4 linked regions of the Homo sapiens genome follow. The protein of the gene in region 4 purifies or fractionates together with the protein of the main gene of each other region. This does not show direct contact. Each region holds a gene or a part of one and is shown on either strand. Other genes may lie near its edges.

The links. Proteins that work in one complex are often made in the same cells at the same time.
Region 1: the proteins of DPY19L1 (region 4) and ACBD3 purify together in Homo sapiens (pull-down; one large-scale study listed by IntAct). This does not show direct contact.
Region 2: the proteins of DPY19L1 (region 4) and ANKRD22 purify together in Homo sapiens (co-immunoprecipitation; one large-scale study listed by IntAct). This does not show direct contact.
Region 3: the proteins of DPY19L1 (region 4) and TMEM38B fractionate together in Homo sapiens (co-fractionation; one large-scale study listed by BioGRID). This does not show direct contact.

What each region holds. Positions count from the first base shown.
Region 1 is NC_000001.11:226,176,742-226,180,241, forward strand, and holds part of ACBD3 (Golgi resident protein GCP60), read right to left. Parts: intron 1-3,500. UniProt on the Homo sapiens protein: Involved in the maintenance of Golgi structure by interacting with giantin, affecting protein transport between the endoplasmic reticulum and Golgi. Involved in hormone-induced steroid biosynthesis in testicular Leydig cells.
Region 2 is NC_000010.11:88,820,845-88,824,344, forward strand, and holds part of ANKRD22 (ankyrin repeat domain-containing protein 22), read right to left. Parts: intron 2,535-3,500; coding exon 2,436-2,534; intron 2,175-2,435; coding exon 2,097-2,174; 3' UTR 1-2,096.
Region 3 is NC_000009.12:105,722,041-105,725,540, forward strand, and holds part of TMEM38B (trimeric intracellular cation channel type B), read left to right. Parts: intron 1-493; coding exon 494-581; intron 582-3,500. UniProt on the Homo sapiens protein: Intracellular monovalent cation channel required for maintenance of rapid intracellular calcium release. Acts as a potassium counter-ion channel that functions in synchronization with calcium release from intracellular stores.
Region 4 is NC_000007.14:35,013,486-35,016,985, reverse strand, and holds part of DPY19L1 (protein C-mannosyl-transferase DPY19L1), read left to right. Parts: intron 1-3,280; coding exon 3,281-3,418; intron 3,419-3,500. UniProt on the Homo sapiens protein: C-mannosyltransferase that mediates the C-mannosylation tryptophan residues on target proteins.

The DNA.
Region 1 (3,500 bases), on a different chromosome or scaffold from region 4:
ATACATGAAGAAAAAAATGCCTCAACTTTTGTGAATACTGACTCACAATGTCAAATAATCAGCAAAATTATAAGGCTAATTATAAAGTTTATCTGATCCATGACTGTCAATGAGATATTTTAATATTTCTTCTCAGTAAATTTAAAAAAACAGTATTTGTTAGTAGATAAATTGTTAGAAATTGTTTATTAACTGCTTTCGAAGAAACATGTCCAGCAACTTTGAGGAAAAAATGTGCACATTATTTTTAATCACATACAATCAAACATAATTGGTAATGTACCGAAGATTACATTCAGCCGTGAGTAACAGGAAACACCCACAATATTCCTGATATGAGGAAAGTGCTTATTCTCACATCAAAGTACTGGGTGAAACCAGTCACTGCACAATGCGGCAGAGGAACAAATTCCCATGTAGCTGTTTTTTTTTTTTTTTTTTTTAGACGGAGTCTTGCTTTTGTCGCTTGAACCGGGACGGGTTCAAGTGGTCCCAGTTGATGCTGGAGTGCAGTGGTGTGATCTCAGCTCACTGCAAGCTCCACCTCCCAGGTTTACGCCATTCTCCTGCCTCAGCCTCCCAAGTAGCTGGGACTACAGGTGGCCACCACCACTCTTGGCTTTTTTTTTTTTTTTAAGTAGAGACGGGTTTCACCGCATTAGCCAGGATGGTCTCCATCTCCTGAACTCGTAGATCCGCCTGCCTCAGCCTCCCAGAGTGCTGGGATTACAGGTATGAGCCACCGTGCCCAGCCCCACGTAGCTGTTTTTGACAGTACCATTGTAGCTGTCATCTTGAATCAGGAACAGTCAATACCAGTATGAACAGAGGAGTTTACTATACAAATCAGATCTTCTATCAATTTAATCCATAGACTAGGGGAGTCAGATCATCAGAGGATATTCCCAACCATGAGAGTCTGAACAGGTTGTCCGGTACACGTTAGGGCTTGCAGGAAAATCTTAAGTGCAGACGGATTTTTAGTATGAGTTGTTTTGAGCCACTATTTTTTTTTTTTTTTAGACAGGGTCTTGCTCTGTAGCCCAGGCTGGAGTGCAGTGGCACGATCTCACTCACTGCAACCTCTGCCTCCCAGGTTCATGTGATTCTCCCACCTCAGCCTCCTGAGTAGCTGGGGCTACAGGTACAAGCCACCAAGCCTGGCTAATTTTTGTGGGGTTTTTTTTGCAGAGATGGAGTTTTCCCATATTGCGCAGGCTGGTCTGGAACTCCTGAGCTCAGTGATCCACCTGCCTCAACCTCCCAAAGTGCTGGGATTACAGACGTGAGCCACTACACCCAGCCCAAGCCAATAAATTTGTGGTAATTTGTTACAAGAGCAATAGGAAACTAACATGATATACAAAACACATTTTTCAGGCAATTAAAAACAGATAATGGGATGTACATTATGTTCTTACTAAACTCACAAGTATTTAACTTTACAGTTCAAATAGGACAGCATAATTTGATACCAAGTCCAAAGCTCTGAAAGATTACAATTAAGTCCCTCCCACCTGAAATTAAGTATACAAAAGACTATTAGGGGCTGGGCGCAGTGGCTCACACCTGTAATCCCAGCACTTTGGGAGGCCAAGGTGGGCGGATCATCAGGTCAGGAGTTCGAGACCATCCTGGCTAACATGGTAAAACCCCGTCTCTACTAAAAGTACAAAAAAAAAAATTAGCCGGGCATGGTGGCGGGCGCCTGTAGTCCCAGCTACTCGGGAGGCTGAGGCAGGAGAATGGCGTGAACCCGGGAGGCGGAGCTTGCAGTGAGCCGAGATTGCGCCACTGCACTCCATCCTGGGCGACAGAGCAAGACTCCGTCTCAAAAAAAAAAAAAAAAAAAGACTATTAGGCTCACACCTCAATTGCTATTTTATAGGAGAAATCATATTTTTTCTCTTCTCTCTGGAGGCAAAGGAAAGTACCAAATTATTTCAATGTCCCTTCTAGCCTTCATTTAATGAAAGAAGGCCATAAAATCTACGGCGTGGAAAGGATGTTAAAGATAGGTGATTGAATTGCAAACTAAATCTCAAATCCTCTCTACAATATCCACCCAGCAATTGCTAACCTATGCTTGAATACTTCCTGGTGATAAGAACTCACTGTCCCAAAGCAGTCTAATCCATCTTTGAATAGCTGTGATTCTTAGCTCTTTATTCTGAGGTGGTATCTCTCAACTCCATCCACAGGGTTTATTTCCTGTCCTCAGCATTAACTAAAACACATCTAACTAATTAGACCTCAAGAAAGTCACAAAATATGTATTGTGTTTGCCCTGAGTTCTCTATTCTCTTGGCTACACATTCCCAGCTTAGTCAATCATACTTCAAATTTAAATTTAATTCCCAGCTCTGCTATTAAGTATATAACATGGACAAGTTATTTAATCTTTTGAAATCTGTTTTGTTATCAATAAAATAAATACTGCTCCTTAGGGTTCATATGAGTGTTAGAAATGTGTCCCAAAATCTTTGTATAGTGCCTGCACAGAGCAGACACTGACTAAACAGCAGCCATTATGATAATAATGGCAGGGACTTGAATTCCCACTAGGTACAAGTTGCTCTCTTCTGAATGAGCTCCATTTTGTTTTTAACCCTAAAGGATGATGCCTCAAACAAGCAGTATCCACGGCTTGTTTGAGGTGTACTCCTTGGTGCAGAGGAGAGCAGGACTATCTCTCTCTTTCCCTCATCCTAGTTACCATATTTCCACCAAAGCAGCCTAAGATCAAATCTGTTTTATTTCATGGCCATATCACACTGTTGCCTCACAGAGAATACACTTTGATTAAAATCCATCTTTTAGAAATATTAAAACTGGGCCAGGCGTGGTGGTTCACGCCTGTAATCCCAGTACTTTGAGAGGCCGGGTGGGCAGATCACCTGATGTTGGGAGTTTGGGACCAGCCTGACCCAACATGGAGAAACCCCATCTCTACTAAAAATACAAAAATTAGCCGGGTGTGGTGGTGCACACCTGTAATCCCAGCTACTTGGGAGGCTGAGGCAGGAGAATCGCTTGAACCCAGAAGGCAGAGGTTGCAGTGAGCTGAGATCGCACCACTGCACTCTAGCCTGGGCACCAAGAGTGAAACTCCGTCTCCAAAAAAAACCAAATATTAAAACTGAAAAACCAACTAGGTGCAGCAGCTCACGCCTGTAATCCCAGCACTTTGGGAGGCCGAGGTGGATGGATCACAAGGTCAGGAGTTCAAGACCAGCCTAGCCAACATAGTGAAACCCTGTCTCTACTAAAAATACAAAGATTAGCTGGGTGGGGTGGCACGTGCCTGTAGTCCCAGCTACTCGGGAGGCTGAGGCAAGAGAATAGTCTGAACCTAGGAGGCGGAGGTTGCAGTAAGCCAAGACTGGGCCATTCCACTCCAGCCTGGGCAACAGAGCAAGACTCTGTCTCCCAAAAAAAAAAAAAAAAAAGGATAATACAATGCAGTATTCCTAAATCAATGAGTAGGAAACACTCTGGGA
Region 2 (3,500 bases), on a different chromosome or scaffold from region 4:
AAATTGGGACAGATATTGAGGTCTGGAGTCTGTGGATTATTGTTGACTTTGACAAAATAAGCTAGACATTTTCACCTTGTTGCCACAGAGACATAACACTACCTCAGGAAGCTGAGCTGCTTTAAGGACAACAACAACAAAATCAGTGTTACAGTATGGATGAAATCTATGTTAAGCATTCTCAGAATAAGGCCAAGTTTTATAGTTGCATCTCAGGGAAGAAAATTTTATAGGATGTTTATGAGTTCTCCAATAAATGCATTCTGCATTACATAAAGCATGTATGTGCATTTCAGTGTCTAGATTCTAGTCCAAGCTTGTTGGAAGGTTTACAGCTTGTTGCTAGGAGACCTAATGACTAAAAATTTCTGGCTCAATTTTCTGCCTCCAAAAATTAAAAGCTAGGGAGAAAATTGCATAATGTCATGAGCATGATGAAACAAATTGTCATATACTTTATCCTTTAATCTTGACAAAGTTAATGTCAGACAGTCTCTGCAACTCATTGACAAACCATGATTTATTTCTTCAGAAAATTATTCCACTTTTACACAATTTCAAAGATGACAGTTGTAAATTACATTGGTACTATTTTGCAAAATCTCTGAAACCAAATCAAAGGTTTGTGTGTGTCAAAAGTATATTGTTGAAGGTATACTGGTGTGTGAAATTCACTTGTGTGGGTTTTTTGTCCCCAAGGGTCACCTGGTAGCTCAGCTCAATGCCAGTGAATCTTAATTTATTAAGACACGTTTAAAGACTTCAGAATCTATATCTACACACTATTACTTCCTTCATAAAATAAGTTTCTTAAATCCTGTACACAGTTGAATATATATTGCTGGATTTGATTTTCATTAGAGCTTTCAAGGATGGTAAATCTTTCATTCTTATACTGTACTTGTTACCACATACAAAGAGGCTGGCTTAGTTCCTGTCTGCAGCTATGTGAGATTCAGTCTTGATTTTCAAAATTCAGTCATATTTTTAAAGTGAATTTATTTCTACTCTGTGTCATTCACAGAAGAAGTGAGACAGATATTTTGATATTCGCAATCTCTCACTTAGACAAATAATCCAGATCCTACCTCATTGTATAGCTCTGTTTCTTTTGAAGAACTTTATCCAAATAAGTTACAATAATATTTTACATCTATCAATAAAATAAACAAAACTAACAAGCTTGGCAACCACCTTGTATTTACAAAAGGATCATGAAGATTTTTTTAAACGAACATTTTCATAGTTGCATAGTCTTGCTCAAACCAAGATGGCTTTTATTTGTAAACCGAAATCTCTAGTGGTATGCTGGTAAACGAACTTTATGGAAAGTAAAAAACAAAAAAACAAAAACAAACTCTGATTTGTCAATTTGCCAATTTCTGTGGTGTAAACACACTCACCGCTGACACTTGATAGATGTTTTTATTGAAATTCCTTCACCAAAGGAATATTTACTTGTGAATCTCTAAGCCCACACACATACACAAATACCATTCTGTACAAACATACGTATTTAATAATTTGATTCTTCTGCTCAATACTCAAAGGGGGCTGGGAGGAACAGTTTGTCTCCTAGGGCATGACATAGACTGGACAGTCTTTTTATAAGAGTGATACAACTGGGAAGGGAGAACGCTGTTTCAGAAGATAACTCAGATCCTCTTCTTCAGGAAAGACTGAGTTTGGAACACCAGGGCTTTTTTTTTTTTTTTTTTTTTTGAGACAGGGTCTCGCTGTGTTGCCCTGGCTGCTCTCAAACTCCTGAGTTCAAGTGATCCTCCCACCTCAGCCTCCCAAGTAGCTGGGATTACAGGCATGTACCACTGTGCCTAGCTGAAACATCAGTTTCTGACTGAAGTGGAGACTACAACAACTTTAGTGTTTCCCTTAGAAGGATTACGGCCATGGTGAACTTGACTGAGTAAACAATGCTATAAATAAAAAGCTCTTCCAAAACATTAACCATGGTAAGCATCATTATCCCCATAAAATGGTGGCATCCAGGTTAAATGGCCCACAGACCAAAAGTCTAAAATGAAGATAGAATCCAGTCGTTAACTTTTTCTGTATCTCCATCGGTGTGGTCACAAGGATTACAATGCTTTCCTTAGCATTAATTCAATCTGGGAAAATTTTAATCTCCGTGCAATATCCAGTGAGCTCTCACCATGCTGAGGGGGGAAAAATATACAGTTATTTCCAATAGAGTGCCCAAGATCTCGTACGTAGCTTAGACCAATTGACTCTCTGTGTTGGCAAGGGCTTTAAAAGGCAATCAGTCCTAATAGTAATAGGATAACTTCATTCCTTAATGAGGATGATTAATTTTACTGTTGTTTACGTCAGAGGCAAATAATTTACTTCAACATAAGGCCTAGATTAGAAGATGCTGCTGCTAGAGGAACCTCAGACCACGGTCCACCCTCCCTTACCTTATTCTTTATTGTGGGGTCTGCACGGGCTTCCAAGAGCAGAGGGATAAGAGACTGGTTTTTCATTTCACAGGCATAATGTAATGCGGTACAGCCATACTGAAACACAAAGGGCCAAAACTTCAGCTCATAAGTCGGGCCCTCCACAGACCATAGCATGTGGCTTCATTGGCAAATCCTTTTCACACTTTGTAGTATACAACTAAGCAGAAAAATAGTCTGCAAACCATTGATAGACAACTATTTCTAGTACTTAAAAAATTTTTCGCCGGGCGCGGTGGCTCACGCCTGTAATCCCAGCACTTTGGGAGGCCGAGGCGGGCGGATCACGAGGTCAGAGGATCGAGACCGTCCTGGCTAACACGGTGAAACCCTGTCTCTACTAAAAGATACAAAAAATTAGCCGGGCGCGGTGGCGGGTGCCTGTAGTCCCAGCTACTCCGGAGGCTGAGGCAGGAGAATGGCTCGAACCCGGGAGGCGGAGCTTGCAGTGAGCCGAGATTGCGCCACTGCGCTCCAGCCTGGGCGACAGAGCGAGACTCCGTCTCAAAAAAAAAAAAAAAAAAATTTCTTCTCTGTCTCAATGTATATGTATGTTAGTGTCATATAAGCCATCAATCTCTGCCTTTTTGTTTTCCATTTTCTGTTCTAAAGAATGCAACTTAAAAAAGCTGATGCTGAATTGTGCCAAAGTTTCTTTGTCGCATGCTATATGCCTCGGTGATCATCACCTTGATCATGTCACCATCTTTCCCTTAAAGAGTCTCCACATGGCCCTTTACATAAACATTATCCTCTATGGTTTTGGTGATGATTCCTACTGAAGAAGTCGGGTGCTCTTGCTGCAGGACACCTGCAAGATCAGTGCAGTTCTACAGAGACATTTCCCAAACGTGATTTGTTATAGCTTATATTATGTGTTATAAGCTAGTGCATCTACTCTGTTGGTACTAATTTAAAACACTACAGGTCAAAAAAATTATAGCTAGGGCATTAGTGTCCAAAATTTGGCCTTTGGAAAAGTAGCCAAGCAACCATGGTGCTGGTGAGTGAAGAAATAGTACC
Region 3 (3,500 bases), on a different chromosome or scaffold from region 4:
GTGGTACATATGAATAAAAAATATTGCTCTGTCTTTTCTGTGTTTTTTTCATTCAGAATTACTAGAAATAATAAATATGATTGACTATGGGTTCATGATCATTGAACTTTACATCACTTGCCTTTTTGTTTTGCATGTAGGAATTGAACAAATCTCTGTAACCTCTTTTTACAGTATACTGCACCTGAAACCGGTCGTATCAGGAAAGGAAATGATAAAGCAGAGGATTTTATTTTTCAGTTCTGAAACAAACTTCTAACCATATCTTTGTGCCCGAGGCCCCAGTTTTAACAGTTGACATGCTGGTGAAAGGGAAGAATTGCAGTTGTTTTAGTACCCTAAATGTACAAGGCAACTTTTTTCTTCTTTCCAAGAATTATATTTTGGGAATCCTCTTGGAATGTATTATCAGGTGATAGAATTATGGCTCCCTTTAAATATGTTTTACAGGAAAATTTGGCCAAATATTCTTGTTTTATTTTCATATTTTTAGGTGCAGGTGGTACCATTATAACGAATTTTGAGAGGTTGGTAAAAGGAGATTGGAAACCAGAAGGTGATGAATGGCTGAAGATGTCATAGTAAGTTGGTATAAATTATACTGAGACCTAGATGTTTATCCTTAGATCTTACCAAATTCCTTTTTAAGAACATTTTAGGGACTTTAAATGTGGGTGGAATATAGCTGAAAATATAAATAGTAATGATAATGGGAAGAGAACTAGCAAATTTTGTTCTTTTAAAAAGTCTGCTTTCTCAAATGTAGTTTAAAATATATATTTTCCTTCTCTGTGGGTTTCTCTCCTTAGAAAACAAAATCAAACAAAAACCTCTAGATTATAGTAGAATTGTGGGAAAAGTATATATTTATAAAGTGAAAGCTACGTAGGAATAGACTTCTCTGGATGAAAATGAATCGGTGATAGGCTCTTGGCATTTTCATTAATGACTATGACATCATCCAGATTTCAGGCTATATATGTAGTTCTGATAGTAAAATGTTAAGTTTATGGGATCAAATCAATACATTATCATAAAGTGCTTTGAGTTGCTTTAAAAAATGTCAGTTGAGCTTAATTACAGATTAAAATAAGAGAAAGATTAGAGAAATAACCCATTGTGTGATACAAACTGCCTTTTGCATCTATTTAAGATAATCTGTTCTCTGAAGACACTGACTTAGTCTTATTTATTACTTTTTTAAAGAGACAGATTCTGTTGTTCAGGCTTTAGTGCGATGGTGTAGTCATAGCTCACTGCAGCCTAGACCTCTTAGGCTCAAGTAATCCTCCCACTTCAGCCTCCCAAGTATTAATAGTTGGGACTACAGGTGTGTGCTATCATGCCTGGCTAATTTTTGTAATTGTATTTTTTTTTTTTTTTTGAGACAGGGTTTTATTCTGTCACCCAGGCTAGAGTGCAGTCACTGCAGTCTTGATCTCTTGGGCTCAAGTGATCCTTCCACCTCAGCCTCCTGAGTAGTTGTGACTACAGGCATCTGCCATCATGCCCTGCTACTTTTAAAAATTTTTGTAGAGACAGGGTCTCATCTCAGTATGTTGCCTTGGCTGGTCTTGAATTCCTGGGCTCAAGCGATCCTTGTACTTTGGCCTCCAAAAGTGCTGGGATTACAGATGTGAAGCACCACACCCAGCCAGTATTTTTATTTTTGTAGAGATGGGGTCTTGCTGTGTTGCCCAGGCTGGTCTTAACTTTTGCCTCAAGTGATCTTCCTTCCTTAGCCTCCCAAGGGGCAGGGATTACAGGCATGAGCCACTGTGCCTGGCCGAACTCAGTCTTTATTTTGTTTTGAGTCAGAGTTTCGCTGTTGTCACCCAGACCAGAGTGCAATGGTGTGGTCTCGGGCTCACTGCAACCTCCGCCTCCCAGGTTCAAGCAGTTCTCCTGCCTCAGCCTCCTAAGTACCTGGGATTTTGGGCGTGTGCCACCATGCCCAGCTAATTTTTGTATTTTTAGTTGAGATGTGGTTTCACCATGTTGGCCAGGCTGGCCTCAAACTCCTGACCTCAGGTGATCCACCCACCTTGGCCTCCCAAAGTGCTGGGATTACAGGCTTGAGCCACTGTGCCTGGCCCAGACTCAGTCTTAAATAAGTCACAGATACGTTTCTCATGTACCTAAAAATGAGGTAGAGAAGTATAGTTACTGTTCCCATAATTCAAGAAGGAAAAGACTTAGAGAATGGTGGCTGTAATAAGCAAGGTGAGGAAAGACTTCATGTAAAAATAAGCTCATTTTCTAATTTAAATTGGATTAAAAATAGATTATAATGGATTGAAAATGAAGGTTGAGGCTGGGCACGGTGGCGTATGCCTGTAATCCTAGCACTTTGGGAGGCCGAGGCAGGCGTCAGGAGTTCGACACGAGCCTGGGCAACATGGTGAAACCCCGTCTCTACTAAAAATACAAAAACTAACTGGGCGTGATGGCATATACCTATAATCCCAGCTACTCAGGAGGCTGAGGCAGGAGAATCACTTGAACCTGGGAGGCAGAAGTTGCAATGAGCTGAGATCGCACCACTGCACTCCAGCCTGGGTGACAGAGGTGAGACTCTGTCTCAAAAAAAAAAAAAAGAAGAAGGTGGAAAGGCAGTACAAGTGATGAAGTACATTTGTGTGAACTAACAAATTTCGGGATATTTAACTTGAAAAATACCCCTTTAAGTTTGAATGAAGTAGTTTAGAAATAGAACAAAGGAAGCTTTGATTAACGATAAGTTATAAATAAGATACTCTTGATATTCAGGGGAGATTTTTCTCATTTTGAGTATATGCCTTGAAACACCTTCCATAAAACATTTTTTTGGGCTTTTATAACCAAAATCAAATTATGTTTCTACTTTGTTCAGAAACCTTGCATTGATTCCTCCAAACGGCCTATAAGTCCCTCCAAATGTGCCTTTCCTCCTTTCCAGTTTGCTTTGATTTCATCTCTTGTTATTATTTCCCTTGCTCACTCTACTCCATGCTTGAGCAAGTCAAGTATGGTCTAGTTTAGCACTAGCTTTTGTCACTACCTAGAACGATTTTTCTTAGATGGCTAACTCCCTTATTTACTTTGCTCAAAGTATTTTCTCAATGCTTCCTTCTCAGTGAGGACTAACCTGCTTAAAATTGCAACACCTCGTTCTATTTTACTTTTTTTACAACATTTATCACCTTCTAACATGTTATGTAATTTACTTAATCATTATGTTTATTCTCCCCTCCCCTTGGCTCCTCCTCCCACCCTTCAACGAATATAAAATGCTAGGGACAGATATTTTTGTCTCTTTTGAATGCTCTTGTGTCCCAAGCACCTAGCACATAGTAGATAATACATACTAGATGACTGTATGAATTATCAACAACTGGGTCAAGTGAGATAGATCACTGGTTCATTATGATGGTTTGTGTTTATGTATATAGTCATGTGTTGCTTAACGATGGGGATATGTTCTCAGAAATGTGTCATTTCATCATTATGTGAATGTTATC
Region 4 (3,500 bases):
GTTTGAATAGGATCCAAACAGTGCCTACACATTGCATTTAGTTGATGTGTATCTTAAGTCTTTTAATATGTGAATTTCTTTACCTGTTTTTGTTTTGTTTTCCTGCTATTTGTTTGTTGAGAAATCCAGCTGATTTGTCCTATAGAATTACCCACAATAATCCTCATTCTTCAATTATGTTCCTGTATCCCAAGTTTCCTGAACATTTATGGATCAGAAGATTTGACTTATTTTCTGGCAGGAATACTTCCTAGGTGGTGCTGTATACTTCTATTGTATCAGGCCAAGAGGCACATCATATCTGGTTGTCTCACTTTCTGTGATGTTAAGAGTGATCACTGGCTTTAGGTATTGTGATGCTGATTCCTCCTATAGCCTAGCCATCAGCCTAGGTTAGTTATTTCATTATCCTTCTCAAACTGTGGTACCTAATCTATCATTTTTTTCTTTGCACTTATTAGCTATAATTCTTCTATTAAGAACTTTCACACAATACCTTTTGATTTCTCCCTGAGGTATATCATAGAGGAAAGTCAGAAAGATGCTTTATTCTTTCTTTTTATTTACTAATATTCAGAAAAATGAGTAGCTTCCCTAGCATCTTCTAGTAGTGATCAATGGAGTACCTTCTTTTGGAGTATCATTATGATATGATGGATTTTAACATATTTTGTAAACTTTCCTGTCTTTAGCTATTAAAGCCCTTGCAGCTCTCCTTGTTTGCCCTTGATGTGACCTCACTAGTATCCATGGCTTCCTTACTTTCAGGTACTACAAGACATTTTCTTCTCAGACCTGGCATCAGCCAGTTTTCCCATGAGCCACCATTTCTGTCAGTGGCAGATGCTCATTGCTACTAGATTGGCCATTGTATTTTGGCCTTTTTACTGAAGAGAATTAGGCTACAAAAATTTTTTTAAAGAGAAAAGAAATCATGAATTTATATTAATTTTTTAAATGGAAACAAGATTAGATTTTTTTTTACTTATTTGATATTAATCTTTTAGTTTGAGAATCTTGGTTTCAAATTATTGATTTGTTAGGAATAAAAGTACCAAAGGTATAATTAAAAATGTGATTACTGAAAAGAGTTTAAGATTTTCTTGCAGTTCGCTTCTTCACAGGGCAACCCCCAGAATTGGGGCTCAGCCCAGGAGGCCATGTGGGTTCTTGGCTTTGGGCAGGAAGGAATTCAAGAATGCTCCAACAGAGTAAAGTGAAAAGAAGTTTACCTTAAGAAAGTAAAGGGATGAAAGGGTGGCTGCTCCACAGGCAGAGCAGCTGTGAGGGCTGCTGGTTGATTGTTTTTAAGGTTATCTCTTCATCATATGATAAACAAGAGGTGGATTATTCATGAGTATTTTGGGAACAGGGAGGGGAATTCCTGGAACTGAGGATTCCTCCCTCTTTCAGACCATACAGGGTAACTTCCAGAGGTTGCTATGGCATATGTAAACTGTCATGCTGCTGGTGGGAGTTTCCTTTAGTATGCTAATGTATTATAATGAGCACTAAGGATGACCAGAAATCACTTTAGTTGCCATCTTGGTTTTGGCAGGTTTTGGCTGGCTTCTTCACCGCATCCTGTGTTATCAGCAGGGTCTTTGTGACCTGTAACTTGTGAAACCAGTCCTGCCAAGTTCCTGGGCTCCATTTTAACCTTAGGATATAGTCCACTAGGGATATACAGTAAAATTACAGTATCTTAATGTTACTTGAAATCTTCTTCCAAGTTGATAAATAGTTAATTCCTTTCTTTCATTTTTATTTTGATATTTAGGGATTTTTAAATTTTTGTTTTATAATTAAACATATGTTTCCAAAATCAAACCTACAAAAGAAGGAAGGTATAGTTTCCTAGGGCTGTCATAAAGAAGTGCAACAAGCTAGGTGGCTTAAAACAGCAGAAATATATTCTCTCACAGTTCCAGAGATTAGCAGTGGGACATTAAGGTGTTGACGGGCATCTTGTCTCTGAAGGCTGGAGGGGAGAGTCCTTCCTTGTCTCTTCTCAGCCTCTGGTGGTTGCTGGCCATCCTTGGAATTCCTTGGCATGCTGATGCCTCACCCCAGTCTCTGACCCCTCTTCACATGGCCTTTTCCCCTGTGTGCCTGTAGCTTTGAGGCCAAATATTCCTCTTTATGTAGGTACATCAGTTGTGTTGGGTTTAGAGTCCACCTTAATCCAATATGACCTCATCTTAACTTGATCACGTCTGCAAGAATCCCATTTCCAAATAAGATCACTCCACAGGGTCTGGTGGACATGAAATTTTAGGGGACACTATCCAAATCAGTACACAAGGAAACATAATTTTAAAAATAGTGGTATCAGAGTCGATACATCAGAGTATCAAGACCATTTTTTTCTTTTTCAATAAGTTTCTGGATAGGCATATCTCTTTTGTATTTGTGAGTCTTAAACCCAGTTTAAACTTTGGCAGCTACTGGTACTGGCTACCAGGGCAGCTCCAGGGAAAACTGAAGATGCAAATACAAGACGTAGATTTATCTTGTGTTTCTGTCTTCCCTCATACTGCCACTTAGACTCTCCGTTAGGCTTCTAGTATTTTCTTGTTTTTTTTTTGTCTCACATATTATTTCACCCTTGCTATCTTTCCAAAGTAGTGTGCCAAGCTAAAAACTGTCTCTTTTCTTCAAAAGAGGACCACTCCCCACCCTTATCCCCAGTCGCACAGGGTTCTTACCTTATGCTGACTTGATAGGAGGGAAAATAATCTGTAAAATTAGGTGGCACCCGAGTGAAATTCATATGTAATAATACATCAGTGTGTAGCCTTCTCAACACATTTGCATTTTTGCATGTAAATCCGGAGGAAAAATGACTGATAGTGTCATTTTGGGGATTAAAATAAGCAGTTAGAGGAGTATTTTTGGCTTGAGATTTCTTGGTTCATGATAAATTTTAGTTCCATAATAAACCACTCACTCTATTCATAAGATAGCATTTTCTAAGAGTGATATTAGTATAAGTAATAGGATTTTCTAAGTTGAAGTATGCTGAGTCGTATTATTTTTTAAATGCTGAAACTTTTTGAAGCTATTTTGCATTCAGTTATTTCAATTAAGATGCATTTATGTGAAAATACATAGTTTTTTCACAACTTTAGGATTTATCAGTGATCAGAAACCTGTGAAATTCATTGTATTAATAGCTATTACTTAATTGCTTTGTTTTTCAAAAACAGTGTATTTACTTAGAAGTGGCATCATAATTATGTACCTTTTGTTATTTTAATTGAGCATATCTTTATTTCAGGGACTATATTATTCCTATTTCAAGACTATTGTGGAAGCACCCTCATTTTTGAATGGAGTATGGATGATTATGAATGATAAACTGACTGAATACCCCCTTGTCATTAATACATTAAAAAGATTCAATCTTTACCCTGAGGTAAGGTACTTTTTCCAATTGTGATTTTTCACTTTTGTAAAAACTTTTTTGTATTAAACGCTGATTCTAAATCTAAGATATA